Linked DNA regions of Homo sapiens. The protein of the gene in region 1 interacts with the protein of each later gene in a biochemical or structural test. Each region holds a gene or a part of one and is shown in the gene's direction. Other genes may lie near its edges. The genes, in order: CR2 and ANXA6.

Region 1 (10,272 bases):
TCCAGCTTATTGAGGTGTCTGGAATACAGCACATATTAGTTTATTACAACTTTTTGCTTTCCTGACATTTTACTGTCTCCTGACCCTTAAACCTTTCTCCAGACCATTATCTTCATCTCTTTTCTTTTTCTGCATATTAACTCCCTTTGAACAAATGTATATTCACACTTTTTCTAAGAGCAGAGTACGTCCCTGACTTCTCACCTATTTCTAAATTTCAAAGAGGATATTATCAACTGAAAATCAAATTCTTCACCAGTCCTGCCAATTCAGGGCCACAGCAGCAGCATCATGTAGGTCACTTAACTGGAGCCCCATGAAATACCAGGTCTACCTATCAGCCATTCAAGCTACTGTGCTTCTGTTGTTTGTCCATTTCTCATTTTTGTACCAGTATTCCCATCCTAAGCATTATAATTACCTGTGTAACAACCTCATCTCTTTTAAGAGATTTTGGTTCTTATGATTGGAAAGGTTAAAGAGTGACCTATAGGTCACTTTCCAATTATGAAAACAAAAAATTAAGAAATATATATATTTTCATTATTTCACTCCATTGTTCAAAAATCTAAAAGGCCTCCAGTGGAAGAAAATCTGGTGTCTTCAGCCTTTCTAGCCCTTTGGAATGGGATCTCACCGAAGCTCACACCCCCTGATTTCTCCAGCTGCCTGTCTTGTATGCGCTGCTCATGGTCTTCCCCACCTGTCTCCCATGGCTCATGCTTTGCCCACTCTCCACTGCTAACTTTTACTGCTACTGCATGCTCTCCACACATCATCTCTTGGCCAGTTCCTGCACTTGAGTGTGCTTAATAAAATACTAAAGTACCTTTATAAAATGTAGGTTCCTGGTTCCACCTCCCCCTCCAGAGGTTCATAGGTTTGGAGTTAGCACAGGAAAGCTGAGGTTTAACAATCACTCTAGAAGATTCTGCAACAAGTATCTATAGGGCACACTGCTATAAGCAAAGTCAATGGAAGCAAATTTCCTTTTTAGTGTTTTCCTATTTTTCCTTTTGTCTATTTGCATAAACAGTTTCAAATTTCCTACACTTCTAGATTTTACTCAAGCCTTCAGTGGCCACCTAACTTTATCCTATGCTGAGAAAACAAAACCATGAAACAAGAATGCTCCCATTTTCTAATCGGCTACAAACCTACCAACTTACAAACTTACCTCCATCTAGAATCAGATTTTGTTCTCCACTGCAGAAAACCTGCTGAGGCCTTCCCGTCACATTAGAATAAAACCCATACCCCTTATTCTCCAGTCTGAGGCCTTCTGCCTCTCCCTGAAATTCTCTGTACCCCACTCACTCTCTCTGCCCCAGCCACACTGGCCTTCTCTTTATTCTTTGAGCACAATTGCACTAGGTATTCTCTCTTTTGAAATGCTCTTCCTACAAATTATTCTTTGCCTGTCTCCTTGACATTCAAGGCTCAGCCCTCTGTTGTGCTTCTCTGACTCTTGTCTGAAGTATCCATATTCCAGGGTACTCTCCAATACAAAACTGTGTTCTATTTTCTACAGACCACCTATCACCATCTAAAACCTTCTTCCTTATTTATGTACCTGTTTGTTGTTTGTTCCCTCACTGGAATACAAGTTCCATGAGTGCAAGACCTTAATCTGCCTTATTTCCTGATTTGAGTTCCTATCAATAGCCTGTAATTTGGAATTCAATAAATATGAATTGAAATCTTGGTATGTTTCCTCCTATAACAATGAAAGAAGTATCCATTCTGCTGACAAATTCAGCTCCTTTTCCTGTATTCATGATCATGTTCCATACCCTCTTGCCTTTGCAAGGACTTTACTTCTGCAGATATCTCCTACCTTGCATCATCAATGTACCTCTTTCTGTATGATCATCCCCACCAGCATTTAAGTATACCCCAGGAAATCCTTTATGGACCTTCTCATGACCCACTGGAACTCCATTTTCCTGTCCCTCTTCTTGTTCTTCTCAGCAAAACTTTTCATTGACTACTTACTCAAATTTCGTTATCTCCTTCTCCACTTCAGACAGGCTTCTTCCCCACAGTCTCCTGAAGCTGTTTCTTGCAATGTCGCTACTGACCCTTATGCTGATAAATCCAATGGTCATTTTTCTATGTTAATCTTTCTCAGTCTTTCAGCAAAAACTGATGACTTCCTTTACCTTGAAACCATTATCATTCTCATCTTCCAAACCAAGACACTCTTACCTGTTTTTTCCATACTTCCCTGTTGTCTCTTAGTCTTTTTTGTTCTATCTCTAAATATTAGAGGGTCTTGGGGCTCAGCCCTGAGCCTCTTCTTTCTTCATTTCTTCTTCCTAAAAAACCTCAACTCATCTTGTCTCATGGCTTTGAATACTATTTATATGTTGATGACTCATATTTATTATCTATAGTTCTGTCCTCTCTCCTGAGCTGCAAACTGCCTACTTGGCATCTTGATGTGGATGCCTAGTGTGTTAGATATACCAAGTCTGAATGGAAATGATTCTGAACACAATTCCCTACCTCAAGGCCACAACACACACACACACACACACACACACACACACACACACACTCCTTTTTCAGGCTTTCCATCCTCAGAACAGGGTAATTCTATCAATTGTGTAGCCCAAGTCAGAAGTCTAGAAGTCAGGAATCCTCCCATTTCCTCAGCCCCACATGTAAAACAACAAAAAATCTTGCCAATTCTATTTCTAAAATATATCCACTGCTCAATCCTTTGCCAAGCTTCATTTTTTTTTTTTTGGCCCTAAACTGTACTCTTTGCTTCTAAAAGTAAGCAGTTCGATCCACTCTCTACCCAATTGCCAGAATATTCCTTTAAAAATGTAAGTCAGGCCTTGTGATTCTCCTGCTTGAACTCTCCAATGACTTCTATTCAGGATAATATTCACATATCTGTGGTCTAAAAAGCCCTTCATGATCCCTCCTGCTGAGTTTTCTGACTTGATCGTGGACCATTCTGCTTTGCTCATTGCATCCCAGCCACACTTGCCTTCTGTCTGTCCCTGGAGCATACCAAATCCATTCCTCCTGTTAGGCCTCTGCCTAAAATACTTGTACCCAGCAATTTGCCTGGCTGCTTCCTTCTTCCTTCTTGTCCTTCAGTCACAACTTAAATGTTGCCTTTTCACAGGCCTTCCTTAACCATCATAACTGAAGTTGCATGCCACCCTGTCCCTTCTCCTTCCAGTGCATTACATTGTGACATATCACTCTATTTCATATTTCATGTTCAGCACCTTCTTATTTATTTCCTGGTATCTATTTACAGTCTGTCTCTTTCTGTTGGATTATAAATTCTATGAGGGTGGGAACCTTGTCTCTGATGTTCACAGATACATCTCCTGTGCTTAGGACTGAACTTTGGTTAATATGCATAACTGTTGTTAAACTAAATAACAAACAGGGAAAGACCCTAAAAAAAAAAGATATTTGTTTGGGAATAGAACATTGCAATGGGAATATGTGTGTGATTATGAATTGTGTGTATATTCAAGGAAGTAAAAGAAGACAAAGGTTTTTAAAGGAAAAATATGAGGATTACATAATTGTTTTAGAATAATTATCCTTGGCTACAAAGACCAATAACAAGGATGATGCCAGTTTGAGGTTATACAGGCAGATGCCGGAAGGATGTTCTTGTAGGGTTGCAGTGGCTTTTGTGCACGGTTGTGGTTTTTCAGTCTTTTATGATAGTTTGGGTTAACAGGTATACAAGCATGAGAACCCTATTTTCATGGCCTTCCCTGGCTTTCTGAAGGTGTTTTTTGTTGTTTTTTTTTTTATTACATTAGTGACTCTATTTTGATTCTGACAACTTTCACATCATCATTCAAAACTTGCTTATCAAATAGGCAGGAAACCCAGTATTAAGGTATTTGATTATATGAATTATCAGTCTCAATAATGATTTTCCCTCCTACCTGCTTTCTGACTAAAATTTCAGTTTTATTTTTATTATCCTATATGTTTGTTTTTCATCCATTTCAAATGGATTTCCAAGCCATTCCAGGTAAAGTCCCTGGGCCCAAGTAATTAAATATATCTCTGTTCATTTAACTCAGAAACTGCTTCGCCTGTTAGTTTTAAACATGGTTGGAAGGATATGTGTCTGAATGTCAAGTCACCATCTTTGATCTTCAATCCAGTCATGATCTCCTCTGAGTTTTACTCCTGGCTACAGAAAGATGTGAAGAGGGTCCAGTGACCCTCAAGAAAATTTGTATTACTTGATGGCCCATGGCTTAACCTTCCCTTTTCTGATATGATCTGCCTTGTGACTTGGGATTCTGGCTTTCGTTACTAATGAGGATTGATGTTCCCAAAGGAAGATAGCCCTTAAGTCTCCTTATTGGAAATGAGACCCTCCCATTTTTTATCATCCAGAAAGTGTGATCCGTATCTCCTTTCATCATGGAAAGTTATGCTGTGAAGCACCCTTCTGCTTTTGCTATTTCTGGATCTTCATTCCATCTTCGTCCATGTCATTGCCACTGATTAAATCGTGTAAATTTAAATTGGTTTTCCAGCTTGTGGAGGATAATTTGATATTGTCCTTATTTACATTTGATAATTACAGATTAAGTCACTTGACTAGAGTCACTAGTACAAGTAGTATCAGGATCATGAAGTTTGTCTTCATTGAGGTCAAACCCTGATATTCCTTATAGAATCTTGCTATTTTGCACAGAGTAAGCACTTGGAGACTTTTGTAGTTGTTAATGGAGAAAACTAAAGAAACTGAGGAAATAAATAGAAGGGGACCTATAGTGATATCTGGCTCCCAATAATGATGCCTATTCTTAGAACCAGTCTTTGTGACTTCTCCAGTAGTAGTTTGGGGTCACAGCTAAGGTCTGGCTGTGTTTTGGGAGCTTTGTGTGTGACCTTGTGTCAGTTCATCCATGTTTATACTTTGACTTTCACCCGTACCTGTCTCAGACCTGTTTGAAAAAGGAGATTATAAATTTGATATTTAAATACACTGCTATTCTAGGAGGGCCTTACAACTGAGTACTTTCTTTTTTTGCCTGGACTACCATCTGATCTGGAAGAAGAGTTAACTTCTTGTTTTCTGCTTGTCAGTTTAGGGCGTTGAAACTTGAGCTCGTTCTCATACATAGAAAAATGACTTTTCCAGCTATATCCCTAAGTGTATCATTGCTATAGTTTCTTACCTATCTCCTAGAATAACTTCTGTTCCATTATTAATAATAATATTGTTACTTTAAGTCACAGGAATCTGTGTTGAAATGACTGTCCCTTTATCTAGTTCCCATCAGAAAGTATTTACTGAGTTCTCTTTGGTGGCATATTACTCTACTAGATTAACAGAATAAAATAATGAAGAATAATCAACATATTTTCTCCTCTCTAGGCATTAACGGTTTAATAGCTAAGATAGTTATGTAAATTCATTAAAGTAATTTTCAGGATCATATGTGTACTGAGCTTTTACAAGATCTCTTATATACTTTAGTTTCTTATGCTATCCTGGGAAAGTTTGTATTTAAAGATTTTTACCTTTTTGTCCCACAAATTCACAAATAGCGTACATTAGTTATGTGCAGTTTTTTTGTGTATAAATAAGACCTCATTGAAGCTGGGAAAAATATTAATATCCGCTCCCCCTACCACCCTTATAAAAAAAAATCAAAACATATGTAATCATCCTTCAAGGCCCTTGCCACATGCCTTTCCTGTTTTCCCCAGACTCTGACCTCACTGTGAAAAAACAAGCAAACAAACTAAAACCACTAATTTTTACTTGTAAGGGTGAAGGAGATGGAACAATTCTGAGGATTTTCTGAAATTTTATGAAAAATTACTTTCTCCATCTCTGAAGTCTACCCTAAAAATTCTCTGAACCTCTGAGCTTATTTCTGTGTATATTCACCCTTACTGCAATGATATGCATTCTTCATTCCATAAAATATTGCCCTATTTTAGACTTTCATTCTAAAGATCAAAGTTTTCAGGATAATTGGTAACAAGGCAGAAGCAGAGAAGAGGTTTTAGCCTCTCTTGGTTTTTATGTTTCTGTAGCCTTTGTCTCAGGTCCTCAGGTCAGGGTAAGTTTCTGCCAAGGTTTCCTTTTGCTAAGCCTAAAATTCAGAGTAACCAATCTTAAGTTTGCTGTTGAGATATCTTGCAAATACAAATGCTTTCTTGGGTATATCAAGAGGCATTCTTTGTCACCTCCCTAGAGATCTTCAAGTGGTCAGATGCTCAGCAGTTCTGTAAAGGTGAGTAATCCTGTAATAGAGGCATATTTGGGTCTGTCGCTGTATCTGGATGAGATAACATGTTATGTTTAAGATAAAAGACCAGTAAATTCACATGTCATCTCAAGTGAAGAGGGCTCCTGAGTGCTCCATGCTTCCTTTTACTCCTAGGGGCACTGGGTATGAGGGTTAAGTCATGATAGCTGGCCAAACCTATTCATCCTGTGATCTTTATGACTTTGATCTATGGTATCCATACTGTGTTAGGGTGAGGTTAGAAGTTAGAGACAAGAGATGTTAATATTACCTCATCCTCATCCCATTCAATTCAAAAAATACTTTTAAGTAACTACTAGATACTAAGCTCTAGACCAGACAGTGGGGCCTGGGAGTGACATAAAAATGAATCTGATAGTCTTTGCCTTTGAGAAACTCCTACACTAGTTGTAAAGGCCAACTCTTAAATATATATTGTACTATGAGGTAGTTCTCTTATTTAAGAAGTGCTATGAGGTCATAGAGAAATAAATCATAAATGCTACCTAGAAGAATTAGAGAACTATAGGCCCTCTGAGCAGAGGAAACAGCATTTGCAAAAGCATAAGTGTGCAAGAACATGATGTCTCTGGAAAAAATCAGTGTTGTTGGAGTATAGGCTACATAGTGAGGAATGGTAGTTGATTAAATGGATTGGAGCTTACTTGTAAAAAAATATATGCATTTTTTCCCTATAAACAGTGGTAAGTCATAGTAAGTTTTTAAATGTGCAGAGTGGCATGACCACATTTGTGTTTTAGAAAGATAAATGTGCAGTAGTATAGAAGGTGTACCAGCCCAAGGGAGAACAATTAGAAAAGTAAATTATGTCATTCAGTGATCCAATGAGAGACTACTGCAATGACAAAATAGTTGGTTTGGAGAGAGATTTCTGGAGTCCAGTCACTAAACTTCAGTAAGTAATTGAATGAAGAGAAGAGAGTAGAGGATGAGTTAGAGGATGAGTTACAAAAAGGAAATGATCACTGTGAGATTTTTAAGGCAGAAGACTTGGTAGATGATATCATAGATTAACAGAATATGTATAAAAATGGAAAATGAAGACTATAAGTTATAACTGACCACAAATAAAGTTGGCATCCATGCACAGAAATGCAGACTGTGTGCATTAAACAAGTAGTGTTCTAGAGTTGACTGATCCGTTGGAAAGTTTTGTAAATGTAAGAATTTCTGTGAGTAAACATAAGCAGGCCTGTCAGCAAGTCCAGTCAGGTTGAGATTTAATATAAAACACAAAAAGTCTCCAAAAAGTCTCCTGAATCCCAGCCTCAAATTCTGTTTGGGTTGATTTGGTTTTCTTTTGTAGATAAATCATGTGTGAGTCATAGAGAACTCCTTTAGGACTCTGTGATTACACACATGGGTATTGCATTTGGGTTGACAATGACATATTCTTGTAATAAAGGGTGAGTTGGCAGGAGACAGTTCCTGGGTACATGGATACCAGAACAGCAGTTCCAACCAGAAACCATCACTCTTCCAAAAGAGATCTGAGTAATTGCCACATACTTTTTAAAATAAATAAGCAAAAAGGAATCACCTCCCTGATCCACTCCAGAGACACTGCTTCAAGATTACCAGCTAGAGAGGATCCCTAGAAGAGAAGGAAGTTTTGGCTGCTCTCTTCCAGTTTTAAGTCTCCAGTGCTACTGACCAGGAGCTTGAATTTCATTTGGCTTTAAATTGTATGAGTCCTTAATCTGTCACCCCTGCTTGTCATAAATGATATTCTATTCTCTGCTATTCTTTCAGTAGAGAAAGAACTAAGTTTTTCTAAAATGTAAGTCTAGCTGGGAGATGATCACTCTTTATTTTTATTTTTATTTTAAGTTCTGGGGTACATGTGCAGGATGTGCAGTTTTGTTACAGGGTAAACGTGTGCCGCGAGATTTCTTATCTCTTTGTCTTTAGATATCTACTCTTTGGTGACTCATCTGCTACATGTATTATCTCAGACAATATTGTAACCTGGGATAATGACATGCCTTTTAATGAATGTAAGTAAAACAATCTCTTTATTGCACCCTATTTAATTCCTCTTGTCCCCTTCCAGAGGGAAATTGAGCATCTGCACACCAAAGTGAGTAGCCAGGAGGGTTTACACTTGGTTTGAGTAGCTCTAGGCACACAGCTATGACTTACCCATCTTCCTCATGGCCCCCAATCCTACCACACGTTCCTTTGTTTACTGTCCTTTGATTATAAGTTATTTCATAGTGAGTAAATGCTTACATCTAAAACATTCCAGGAGATTACACACTGCCAACTTTATTCCATGCAAAAAGTAAGCCACCCTAGGTCCCTTCTATAACAATTTATCTGTGGTCTGGGGCGGGGACTGGTGACCAGCTCATAGCTTTTCGGTTTTTATCAGCCAGTTCCATATATCTTTTGACCTTGCTACTTCCTATTTAGAATCATCTTTGAGATCAGGATACAGAATTTCAACAAAATAGGTAAATTGTAGGCTGAGTTGCAGTTTGGATTGCAAGAATGAAGAGAAAATTCTCAGAAAGTATAATATTCTCTCTTTCCCCACCTACTCCTTAAAAAGGTATTCCTTGTAAGTCACTCCCAGCCATCCCCCATGGGACTTTGACAGCAGCAGCAGGGAGAGGGGTTTGCTATGAAATCATCAGTGCCATATTGGATGTAATAGGGAAAAGCTGTTTGACCTCTTGGATGAGAAGTCAATGCATTGCACCAGCAAAGATAATCAAGTTGATGTCTGGAGCTCTGGAGCAACCCTCCTCTTCAGTGTATTACTCTTACTTGAATGCTCAATTATAGAAGTTGAAAATGGAGTTGTGGAATCTGGATTATGTTCATTTTTTTAAAATGATACATGATATTTAAGTGTAAGCTTGGTTTTACCCTGAAAGGCAGCAATGTAATATGGTGTCAACTAAACAGCAAACAGAATCCTCTACTGCCAAAGTGCTTCAGGGGTGAGTTGGGCTGAAACTTCAGGATCTAGAAATAAAACAAGGTTTTTCTGGGAAATAGATATATGGTACCTATGGAAAGAGCAGAAGGAAGATAGTATATGTGGTTGAGTTTTCTAGTTAAAGAGTTTTTTATTGTTATTGTTTGTTTTGTGTTTCTGTTTTTGTTTTTTTGAGATGGAGTCTCGCTCAGTCGCCCAGGCTGGAGTGCAATGGCGTGATCTTGGCTCACTGCAACCTCCACCTCCTGGGTTCAAGCGATTCTCCTGTCTCAGCCTCCCGAGTAGCTGGGATTACAGGCATCCAACATCATGCCTGGCTAATTTTTGTATTTTTGTAGAGATGGGGTTTCACCATGTTGACCAGGCTGGTCTTGAACTCCTGACCTCAGGTGATCCACCTGCCTCAGCCTCCCAAAGTGCTGGGATTACAGACGTGAACCACCACACCCTGCCTAGTTAAAGAGTTTAAAAGTAAACTTTGAAAGTAATATCTAAATGTTGCAGATGTAGGACTTTTTCTTCTTTTGTATTTTGGGGCAGTGCTAGATCTGTGTTATTGTAGGGGAAATTAAAAGATGCTTTTTTAAAAAAGCAGATAGCACCAAAGTCAATGATTAGAGATTTTTTCATACATATATATATATATAATTATCACATCTTATCCATAGGTGTGCTTTGAACATATATATGCCACTCTTCTCTGTCTTCTGGAATGCAGACCAAAGATGTTAAATTGATTCAGTTGAGTATATATTATACTGCAGATTCTATATGTATAAAGACAACAGTTCTCGAAAGTTACCCTTACTGAAACCAAGTATAGCACTGATGTGATGAAACAGTTTGGCTGTATCTTCTTATGTCAGTTTTCACTGAAGACCTCCTCTTGGAGCCAAAGGGAAGTTAACTGAAAGTTCTAGAGGTTGGCAATTTTCCCTTTATTCTGAGACTCCCTCAGAAAAGGCGTGCATAACAAAGTAAATGTAAACAATATCCTTCATGGTTATTAGGACAAGTAAATGAAGAATATGAGGC
Region 2 (10,272 bases), on another chromosome or scaffold:
CCCAAGAGTCCGCCCTTTTCCCTCCATTATTCCTTCCCCCTTGCCCAAAACATGCTTGGGATTGCTTCCACTGACCCAGATGGCATATCCTGACCTGCGTAGCCCTTCATGGTGAAGTGAATGACCGCCCCAGTTTCAGCCCCTGTGGACCCTGACCTCCTAGCAGGCAGGCCCTGAGCCACGCCGAGGGCACTGGCCTGGGGTCAGAGGAAAGCCCGGTTACAGTCCGGATGTGCTGGGACTTCTTGAGCAAGCCCTTTCTCTAAGGCTTTGTGCCCCATCTGGAGCAAAGTCTGCTGAACTGGCTGCCACTGCCAGTGCAGACATTCTAGGATTCAACTGTTCTAAGATTTAGGATTCTGGGAGTTGGATGGGACTGGGGAGGGCAGGAGGCAGAGGCTTTCATCCCCCTCTGCAGCTGTGACAATCACTCATCCATCTTTCTTTGCCTTATCTACCCTTTGTTCCTAAGGCAGCATCTGCTGAGATACAGAAAATACTTGCAGTTTCTGGATAAGGGCCACAGCTGTTGCTGGGGCAAAATGTAGATGTGAGTGTGCAGAGGAGGGGCCAGGGAAGCCCAAGGCCTGGCCTCTTGAGACTGACTCCTGGGATGAAGTGGGGGAGACTGCAGTGCTGGATAGCTGCCAGTGACTGGCACATCCGCACTGCAGCATCCAGAGGGAGCCCTGGGCCACCAGGATCCAGCCTCGGACCCAGCCCCTGCCCTGCCACTAATCAGCTAGGCGCCCTGGGCACACCTACTACCCCTCTGGGGCTTAGCCCCTTCCTCTCTACAGGGATAGGACATATACCCAGGACACCCCACTGGTATTAATAAAATGGGTTGGGTCTGAATGGCTTTTGCTCTACCATTCTAGGATTTTCTGGGGAGGCCCAGTGGAATCACCAGCCTCACCCCACCCAGCCTCTCCGATATACTTCCTGGGTGGCGACAAAGCACAGGATGTGGTCTCTACCGTGATTCCTGAGCATGCATGCACCCCTTCTCCTGCCAATAGAGGGGAGGAAGTCGGAGGGGTGTCTTTATGCCTATAAACTTGCCTTGGAATCCAGCCTCACTCCCTTTCCTCCTGGAGTTGAGAAGCCCCCACAGAGACTGGCTATGGGGGAGTGACTGTCTATAGGTTCCTTGGATGTCCTGCCTATCTGCAAAATGAGAATGAGATCGATACCTTCATGAGGCTGTAAGATGGCAGATATAAAAGTGCTGTGTTATCTCAAAAGGGTGTGGTGCTTGAGAAGGCAGGCGACCTGAGCCTCAAGTTCCTCTTCTGAAAAATCCATGTCCTGGTGGTCCTTAAATAATAGCAATAAAATGGTAACCACTATTACCTCTCGAACCCTTAAATTTGCCAGGCCCCGGCTGAAGCCTTGCTATGTTAGACGCTGTTATTAATGCCTATTTTGCAGACATGGAAACTCCAGCCCTTAACAGTTTAAGGAAGAAATAATAATGACAAATGCTTATAAAATATAGTGCTTCCTGTGTGCCAGGTCCTCTTCTAAGCTCTAGACTTGTCTTAATTTTTTTTATCCTCATCATAACTCCTATGAGGGAGGTGCTATTTTTATCCCTTTTTTTTTTTTTTAATATGAAACAGGCACAGAGAGGCTCAATACTTGCACAACACCACACAGCTACTAAATATCACCCTCAGGCTTCAATCTCAGGCAGTCTGGCTCCAGCATCTATACTGTGAGACACTACTTTGCTGCCTCTCACAAAAGTGACCCAAGCTGGGGTTCAAACCTAGGCTAGACTAGTTCCAATCCTGAGGCAGAGAGATGATCTCCTGAGGCCTTGTCCAGTCCTAGGATCAATGGTTCTGGGTCAGGAGAGGAAAAGACACTGCTCCCTAAGAAACCCCAGTCGTCAAGCTGGGGGGTGTGCCCACGCACAGAGCCAGGGAAGGCATTTACCCCAGCTTCATCAGAATCAAGGCTCCTGGAGGGTTATGGAGCGGGTCCTGGGTGTCTTCCTGCAGACCGGGGGAGAAGCCAGCAAGAAAGGGCAAAGAGGGAAGGATCTAGATTTTATAGGCCAGGGGCCTTCTAAGTGGGATGGATATACCCCAGGACGCACTGAAGATGATCTTTTGGGGGTACAGGAAGAAACTATTGGACTCCTTATTAAATGTACTTTTAATGTCATATTTTAAAGGTATATTTCTGTTTATCATGGTAAATACTCAATTTTTCTTTGGTTATGGGTTGTGTATGGGATCAATATATATATATATATATATATATATATATATATATACTGCAAACTGCCATATGACATCACCTTATCACCAGCTTTGTGGGGCCAGGAGCCTTGTCTGTCTCATTTTCTGTTCAACCCCCAACTTCTACCAGTGGGCCTGGTTTGTAGGAGGTGCTCAAATAAATGTTTATGGAAAAACACGCCCCTGCTTGATGACTGATTTTCTTCTGATGTTGGGTAAGTGACTTAACCTCTCTAGTTTATCTCCTGGCTATAGAAAGAGGAGTAAAGCACAGTTTGAAAACCAATAGTAGATGGTTCCATTTGCTGAGGTCACTAAAGAAAGCATGAAAGCCACTTAGTGCATTTTACCCCCAACCATCCATAGGAGCCACGCCCTATGGGAGGGGGTGCAGGAAAGAGGCATATGCAGTAATTTTCTAAAAAGTGTAAAATTATGACTCATGCAGATACAAAAATGATCATGTGCTGTTCTACTTATTAATCAATGACCACACCAGGCCGATGTTATAACCAGCTCAAAAGACACATTTGTATTGAAAGAAATGTGCAATTAGAGACAAAACTCTTTTTTTACCTGAGGGGGTGGGAAATCAATTGGACCTTTACAAAATAGGGCAAGGAGTATGTATTAGAATTACTTTGTGTTACCATCAATTATTTGCAACTTACTGACCTGTAAAATCACTCAAAGACAATGAAAGTCTCGAGTCAGACAACCTGGAGGGTTTTCCTTTGAAGTACAGATTCTTTCCCATAATACCTTGGAGGCTGGCAGCCCTTATCTAATGGAGAAATGATAAATCCACAGTGGTTGACCAAAGCCAGTCAAATCAAGGTGGTTTCAGAGCACCCTAGCGGGGGAATACCTTCTGGCTTGTTAGAAAAGGCGGCATTTGAATCCAGCAGATAACAGTGGTTCTCAGCCTCCTTGGCTGCCATTAAAATCACCTAGGAAAGTTTTTAGAAATTACCAAAGGCCAGGCCTCACCCCAGCAGTTGAGTCAGAATCTCTAAGGGCTGACCTTAAATCTTTGGTAGTTTTGAAAAATTCCCCAGGTTCTGTTAGTGAAGCTAGAATTGAAAAGCACTGGTATAGATTCTGGAAAGCTGGATTAAAAATGTTGGTGGAAGGCGTTCCTGGTTTAGCAGGGAAGACAGGGCAAAGAGGAAAGTGGTGATGGCAAAGAAGTCAGTAAGGAGAACCAATGGCCTCGACTGCTGAGCTTAGAGGCCCAGTATTAAGGGGCACCATTGGAGACTTGTGAGCAGAGGAGTGCTGTGGCTCAGGCTGTAGCCCCTCAGGCACTCCCCTGAGGCAGAGGTCTGGGTGGGTTTTTTTGCATGATTTTCCATATTATTTCTTTTTTCTCAAATCACCCTCCCACCACACCTGGTTTCACCCCCTTACGCTCAACATCTCCTTTCCCTCAAAAGTGTACTCTGTTCCTCCACAGCCCAAGCTACCTTTCGATGACAGAAATGCTTTTTCTTACCCTGGTGTTACTATTCTTCCTGGCATGCCCCTGCCTCCATTCCATTGAATCCAGATTTTGACTGTGCACCTCTATCAGCCTGCACCCCTAATATTTTCTTTAACTTTATACATGTATAACAAATAAAAATGGGACATAAAAGGGCAAGATTAAAACATTTGGAAAGTGGTGATACTCTTGTCCTGCACCCCAGTGGATTGTCATACCCATTACCCCTTTTTGGAGACTACTGCTGTAATAATGATGATTGTGGCAACAGAAGTCACCGTTTGTTAAACATTTAATCTGTACCTGGCCATGCTAAGTGTTTTACCTGCCTTATTTCATTGAATCTTCACAAAAACCTTACAAGAGGGTCATTTCAGGATGAAGAAACTGAGGCAGAGAAATTCCATAACTTGCCCAAGTTACTGAGCTCGGAATTTGCATGGTCAGGATTTGAACTTGGGCATCGACCACAAATCCTGCATTGATTCTAATGCCACATTGCCTCCATTGTAAATGTTTGGGCTTATTATAATAAAAGCCACCATTTATTGAGCCTTTACTGTGTGCCACGCACTGTGCTAAGTGTTTTCCCCCCGTTACTTCATTTATTTCTCAGTACCTATAGGTATTTCTATCTGCATTTTGCGGATGTGGAAATTGAGATTCAGTTTAAGTAACTTACTTACATCACAAACTGCTGGGCAACATCTGTGCCTGAAGGCCCATGCCTTCACATGACTTGGATAAAACCCTTCCCCTATCCACATCTCTGTGGTTGGGCAGTGGTGAGCCGTTCCTTCTAGAGTCAGCCTGGAACTCTCGAAGGGGAAGGAGGAAAACGTGATTGATTGCAGGCAAAAGGATGAGGCAAGGGGTGGCCACAGCAGCACAAAGCCACCCAGGCCATTCATTCTGCTCCTGTGTGGGTTTCACGAATGATCAGTCATGATAAGTCGTCACAGTATATCTCATCTAGATCTGAGAGAATCAGGGTTCCTGGGAGGAAAGAGGCACAGGTCTGGAATGACCCTGTTTACTAGTCTTGAACAGCTCTTTCAACCAAGGTGATGAATGTTGCATATTGGCGGGTGGAGATGGGGAGGAATCCTGTGGCCTGGGAGATGACCCTCCTAGGACTGATATTCTGCTGTGAAAATCCTGAGTTGAAGTCTCTAAAAGCCTCTAACTATAGATCCTACCAAAGAGGGAGTGATGTATTGTCCCACTTTAGAGATGAAGAAACTAAGGCTGAGAGAGGGATCTGGCTTGCCTGAGGTTACATGGGGGCAGACTGGGAACCAGAACCAGGGTCTTATTCTTTGGACTCTTCCTGGTGTCCCATTGCAGCCAAGACCCACAGTTGTGTGGGGACTTGTTATGATCGAGGGCTGCTAGGCAGAGATGTTGGCTGCTTCCTGGGCCCTGGCAAGTCACTTTCTCTTTCTGAGATGCCTTTACCCCGTCTAGAAAATGAGGGACTTGGAGTCATGGATTATTAAGGGCCCTTGTGGGATTCAGAAACACTAGATGTAAAATATTCAGCCAATTTGAGCAGTATGGTCTAGGTTGCTCTGGGAGGGATCAGAAGCCATCTTAAAGCCAGGGTAAATGGTGTGTTTATGATTAGCTCAGGAGCTTCCCAGAACCCTCAGAGGCGGGGCTGTGGAATCAGCAGGGGGACTGGCCCTCAGAACTGCAGTCTGAACATCTAGTTCTGGAAGGAGCTTGCTTTTTACATATGAACTGTGCACTCACACAAGGCACACAGAAACTGCTCTCAGAGCTGAGAATATTTTCCCAAACAGTAAGAGGCCCCTCCTTGAAGCCATCTCTCCTTGGAAAGGGGAGCTCCTCCAGATGGGCCTGGGCTGCAGCCAGCAGCTGAAATTGCCAGCAACAAGCCCAGAGGAAAGTGCTTCAAGGCTGGAGATGCAGGTGACAGGCCTCAGCCCTCCCTCTGTCTGTGTCAACTAACTTCCTGGGTCTCATTCAGTCCCTGGTTCTCTGCTAGCCTTGGGCTTCCTTCACTGTCTCCCCCTACTATCCCCCAGGTCAGAGGAAACCGAGAGCTGGCCTCCAGCCTCATCCCGGGGTAGATGTGGGCCCCCTCCTCCCCCCACCACACACTGGAAAGGGGGTACAGTTTCCATTTCCTGGTGAGAGCTGCACAGTTGTACCAAGGGGCCCCTGGTTGCCAGGGAAACAGCAAGGTTTCCTGAAGCTGAGCTGAGCTGAGCTGCATTTGCAGGCAGATCCGTCCTCTGCCTTCCACTCCCAACCCCATATGATGACTGTCCTCAGCTGACTGCAGCTTGGGGAACTCATAATCAGCCAGTGAAGACACAGAGGCAAACACGACAGAGGCCCTGTCCTCAACTTCCCACCAGCACAGTAAATATCACCATTTACTAAGAACAGGTCTTGTGCCTGGCCTCTTATGTGCTGCCTTTGACATAACTTAGGTCTTATCCTCCAACAACCCTACAAAGCAGAAAAGGGAAAGCTTCAGTTTTGTGCTTGAGATCACCTTGAACTCAAAAATGAGCAATAAGCCCACGGTCACATGGCTAAGATTTTCCCTAAGTCTTGGGGGAACAGGGAATATGTGGAGAACTGGAAGGCATTGAGCTGAAATGTCTCCATGATTTCTACTCTCCTAGTTCTGTTCCTTTTAGGTCTTACTGGGTAAATCTGATTGACTTTGTTATGTTTACTTTTTTTTTTTTTTTTGAGTCAGAGTCTCACTCTGTTGCCTAGCCTGGAGTGCAGTGGTGCCATCTCTGCTCACTGCAACCTCTGCCTCCCAGCTCAAGCGATTCACCTGCCTCGGCCTCCTGACTAGCTGGGACTACAGGCACACACCATCACACCTGGCTAATTTTTGTATTTTTTCGTAGAGACGGGGTTTCGCATGTTGGCCAGGCTGGTCTCAAACTTCTGGCCCCAGGTGGTCCTTGCCGCTTGGCCTCCCAAAGTGCTGGGATTACAGGCATGAGCCACTGCTCCTGGCCTCTGTTATGTTCACTTTTAAAAAGCAATACATAGACATTGTTAAAAGAGATCAGGCCAGGCTTGGTGGCTCACGCCTATAATCCCAGCACTTTGAGAGACTGAGGAGGGCAGATCACAAGGGCAGGAGTTCGAGACCAGCCTGGCCAACATGGTGAAACCCATCTCTACTAAAAATACGAAAATTAGCCAGGTGTGGTGCCGTGCACCTGTAATCCCAGCTACTCAGGAGGCTGAGGCAGGAGAATCGCTTGAACCCGGGAGGTGGAGGTTGCAGGGAGCTGAGATTGCGCCACTGCACTCCAGCCTGGGTAACAGAGCGAGACTCCATCTCAAAAAAAAGAGATCAAATTGCCCAGACCTGCTTAAAGTGGAAAGTAGTGGTCCTTTGTTTCTCTTCTCCTTCTCTTAAGAAGATTGTTAAACTTTCATCTGTTGCCCTCCTGAGTGCTCATTAGCCAGCTCCCTACCTGCTTCTCTTATACTTCCCAAATCAGTTACATCTCTTTTTGCATTTATTTTTACGTATCATATCTTTGTTCCTTCACTGTAGACCCTGTCTCCTGATATCCTCCACCCGCATTCCTTATCCATTTTCAATGAGATATGTGTCCTGTTTTCCTGTGTGTTCCTGTCTTTTTTTTTTTTTTTTTTTTTTTGAGACAGGGCTTGCCCTGTCACCCAGGCTGGAGTGCAGTGGTGCAACCTTGGCTCACTGCAGCCTCCACCTCCTGAGTTCAAGCAATCCTCTCGCCTCAGCCTCCCAAGTAGCTGGGACTATAGGCATGTGCCACCATGTCCAGCTATTTTTTTTTTATTTTTTTTTAATAGAGATCGGGTCTCACTATGTTACCTAGGCTGGTCTCGAACTCCTGGGCTCAAATTATCCTCCCACCTCAGCTTCCCAAAGTGCCAGAATTATAGGCATGAGCTACCACGACCAGCCTGAAAAATCCAGTCTTTACAGTGGCCTCAGGCACCGGTCTCAGATCCTACATCCTACCACACCACTCCCTGCTACCACACCAGCCACACTGAGCTCGTGGTGGTTCCTCACTTGCACCACCCCGCGGTGTGCCCCAGTCACACTCGTGAGATCCTCTGACCCCTCCACCTGGGACTACACCCCTTGTCACTTTCCTGACCAAGCCTTGTCTTTTCTCTGTAGTTCTTATCTCAGCCTGATGAGTGCATTTGTTATTCATTCCCATTACAGCATAAGCTCTAGAGAAACAGAATTTAAAAAATTGCTCATATTTCTGCATGCACAGTGCCCAGAGCAATGCCTGACTAGGATAGGCGCTAAATGAGTGCATACTCACTTGTTCAGGAATGACAGTCCTTCAGATATTGCAGCAGGTGGTTGGAAGCACTTTGAGTCCTATCTGCAGGCGGTCAAGCTCTGGGTTCTGAAGCCATCCTTGTTGACTTGAAAAGGGGGCATGCATGGTGCAGATAGTATAGACTCTGGGATCTAGAAATTGTTGAATTCAGTTCTAAGCTGTGTGATCTTGGCTCATTTATTGCGATGCTCCAGCCTCAGTTTCCTCTCTATAAAAAAGGAGAATCTGATGTGTGGAAGGATTTCTGAGAGTAGTAACTGAGACGGTGCTGAGACAGGTACCCTGCCTAGTGTGGAGGAGTCAAGGGGTCAGTGGTGGGTCAGTGCCATGCCCGCCCTCCCTTGGGGATCCGCGTCCCTTTCCCATACTGCTGTGAATGTCTGGACACCATCTAGTCTGTCCATTGTCTTCTGAAAAAAATGTGATTGGCCTTGAGCTGGGTCATTGGGTCTGATTTAACCTGAAGGGCTGGGGGCAGCTGGAAAACAGCAGAGGGAGGAAATGTAAGGGAAAGAAAGGGGATGGTTAGAGTTGGGGGGAATCTCACATGCTGTCTTTCTTCTCTACAGTGGATTCTGCTGCGAACCGGAGACCATGGCCAAACCAGCACAGGTAAGGGGCCTCTCTTTCCTGAAGGTGGTACTCAGCCTTCTCTGGGCCTGGGATCCTCCTGGAGCCACTAGGCCTGCTACAGAGACCCCTGGTACCTTCAGCTTGAAAAAAGGAGGAAAGGTTCTTAGGCTTTGCTTGCTCCTGTTACAAGTCATGGCTCTTCAGATGCAGGTCACCATAATGTAATATAACCCACAATATCCTAAGCAGAAAAGGATGTGTATTGGCTTATCTGACAGAGAGGCCCAGGGCTTCAGGTCTGGTTGAATCCAGGGGTTTCCAAATGATAGTGTCAAGATTCTGCCTGTGTGAGCTGGGCTTCTTCCGGTGGCTTCATTCTTGGGTAGGTTCTTCCTTGCATTGGCATGGTAGTCATCAGCAGCTCCAGGCTTCCATTCTGCTGTCTTGGCAGCCCAGGGAGAAAACAACATAACTCATGCCCAGTGATTCCAGGGGAAGGCCCAGGTCTGGTTCTCATTGGCTGTGCCTGAGTAACCTGTTCTTTCTTGGAGCAAGGAGGTGGAGTTGGTCCCACCTGAACTGTTTGGCCTGACGAAGGGAAATGGATACTTGACAGGTAGAAAGACATCCTTGTTGACTTCTCTGCTCTGGATATAGAAATGTTCTCTGTCACACCCATTTGGGATTGAATTTCCTTGGCTTGGGAGACTCTAACCTCAGTCTCTCATGTCTGACTGTTCTGCCGGGCAATAGAATTGGAGGCACCTGAGAACTTTTACTCCCATGTGGCTGAGACTAGGTTCTGGCCATGGTCAGAGGTAGGATTCTGACCTCGACTGTGCTCTGTTGAGGCTGGGCACGGTGACTCTCACCTATAATCCCAGCACTTTGGGAGGCTGAAGTGAGCAGATCACTTGAGCGCAGGATTTCGACACCAGCCTGGACAATATGGCAGAACCCTGTCTCTAGAAAAAATACAAAGGTGGCATGTACTTGTAGTCCCAGCTGCTTAGGAGGCTAAGGTGGGAAACTCACCTGATCCCAGGAGATTGAGGCTGTGATGAGCTGAGATCATGCCACTGCACTCCAGCCTGGGCTACAGAGCAAGTCTCAAAAAACAAAAAACCCCACTCTACTCTGTTGGGGTTTGCCTGAGGGTGCTGTCTGTTGGCTGGCGTTGGAGAAAGCCATGCAGTCAGTGTGACGATGGGATTGGCAGGGAGAAGAAACTTGGGGATCTTGAAGAAAATCATGGGACTGGGCCCCGTTGTCCCTTACTCCAACCCAGAACTACTGGCCACAGAATGCACAGACAGAAGCTGTCTGTGAGGTCTTTGGGCCTCATGTTCCCCTTACGGAATGGTTGAATTCAGTAATAATAAAACTCCATCCATCCTTGACATCATGACTGCCCCCAGTGAACCTGGGCTTATAGGATATTCACAGTTTCTGAAGAGCACAGGATGTTATAGGATCAGTACCCTCAGAGAAGTCCTAGCTGTGGCCTTCCTCACAGCCACTGAGGAGTATACTGTGTGTACAAGTGGCCTCTCTGACCAGGAGGAGAAAATGTTACTGATTATGGGCAAAAATCCAAGGTGGAACTTTCACT

The links.
Region 2: the proteins of CR2 (region 1) and ANXA6 form a complex in vitro, tested with the Homo sapiens proteins (one study listed by BioGRID).

What each region holds. Positions count from the first base shown.
Region 1 is NC_000001.11:207,455,540-207,465,811, forward strand, and holds part of CR2 (complement receptor type 2 isoform 1 precursor), read left to right. Parts: intron 1-10,272. UniProt on the Homo sapiens protein: Serves as a receptor for various ligands including complement component CD3d, HNRNPU OR IFNA1. When C3d is bound to antigens, attaches to C3d on B-cell surface and thereby facilitates the recognition and uptake of antigens by B-cells.
Region 2 is NC_000005.10:151,146,311-151,156,582, reverse strand, and holds part of ANXA6 (annexin A6), read left to right. Parts: intron 1-8,656; 5' UTR 8,657-8,681; coding exon 8,682-8,699; intron 8,700-10,272. UniProt on the Homo sapiens protein: May associate with CD21. May regulate the release of Ca(2+) from intracellular stores.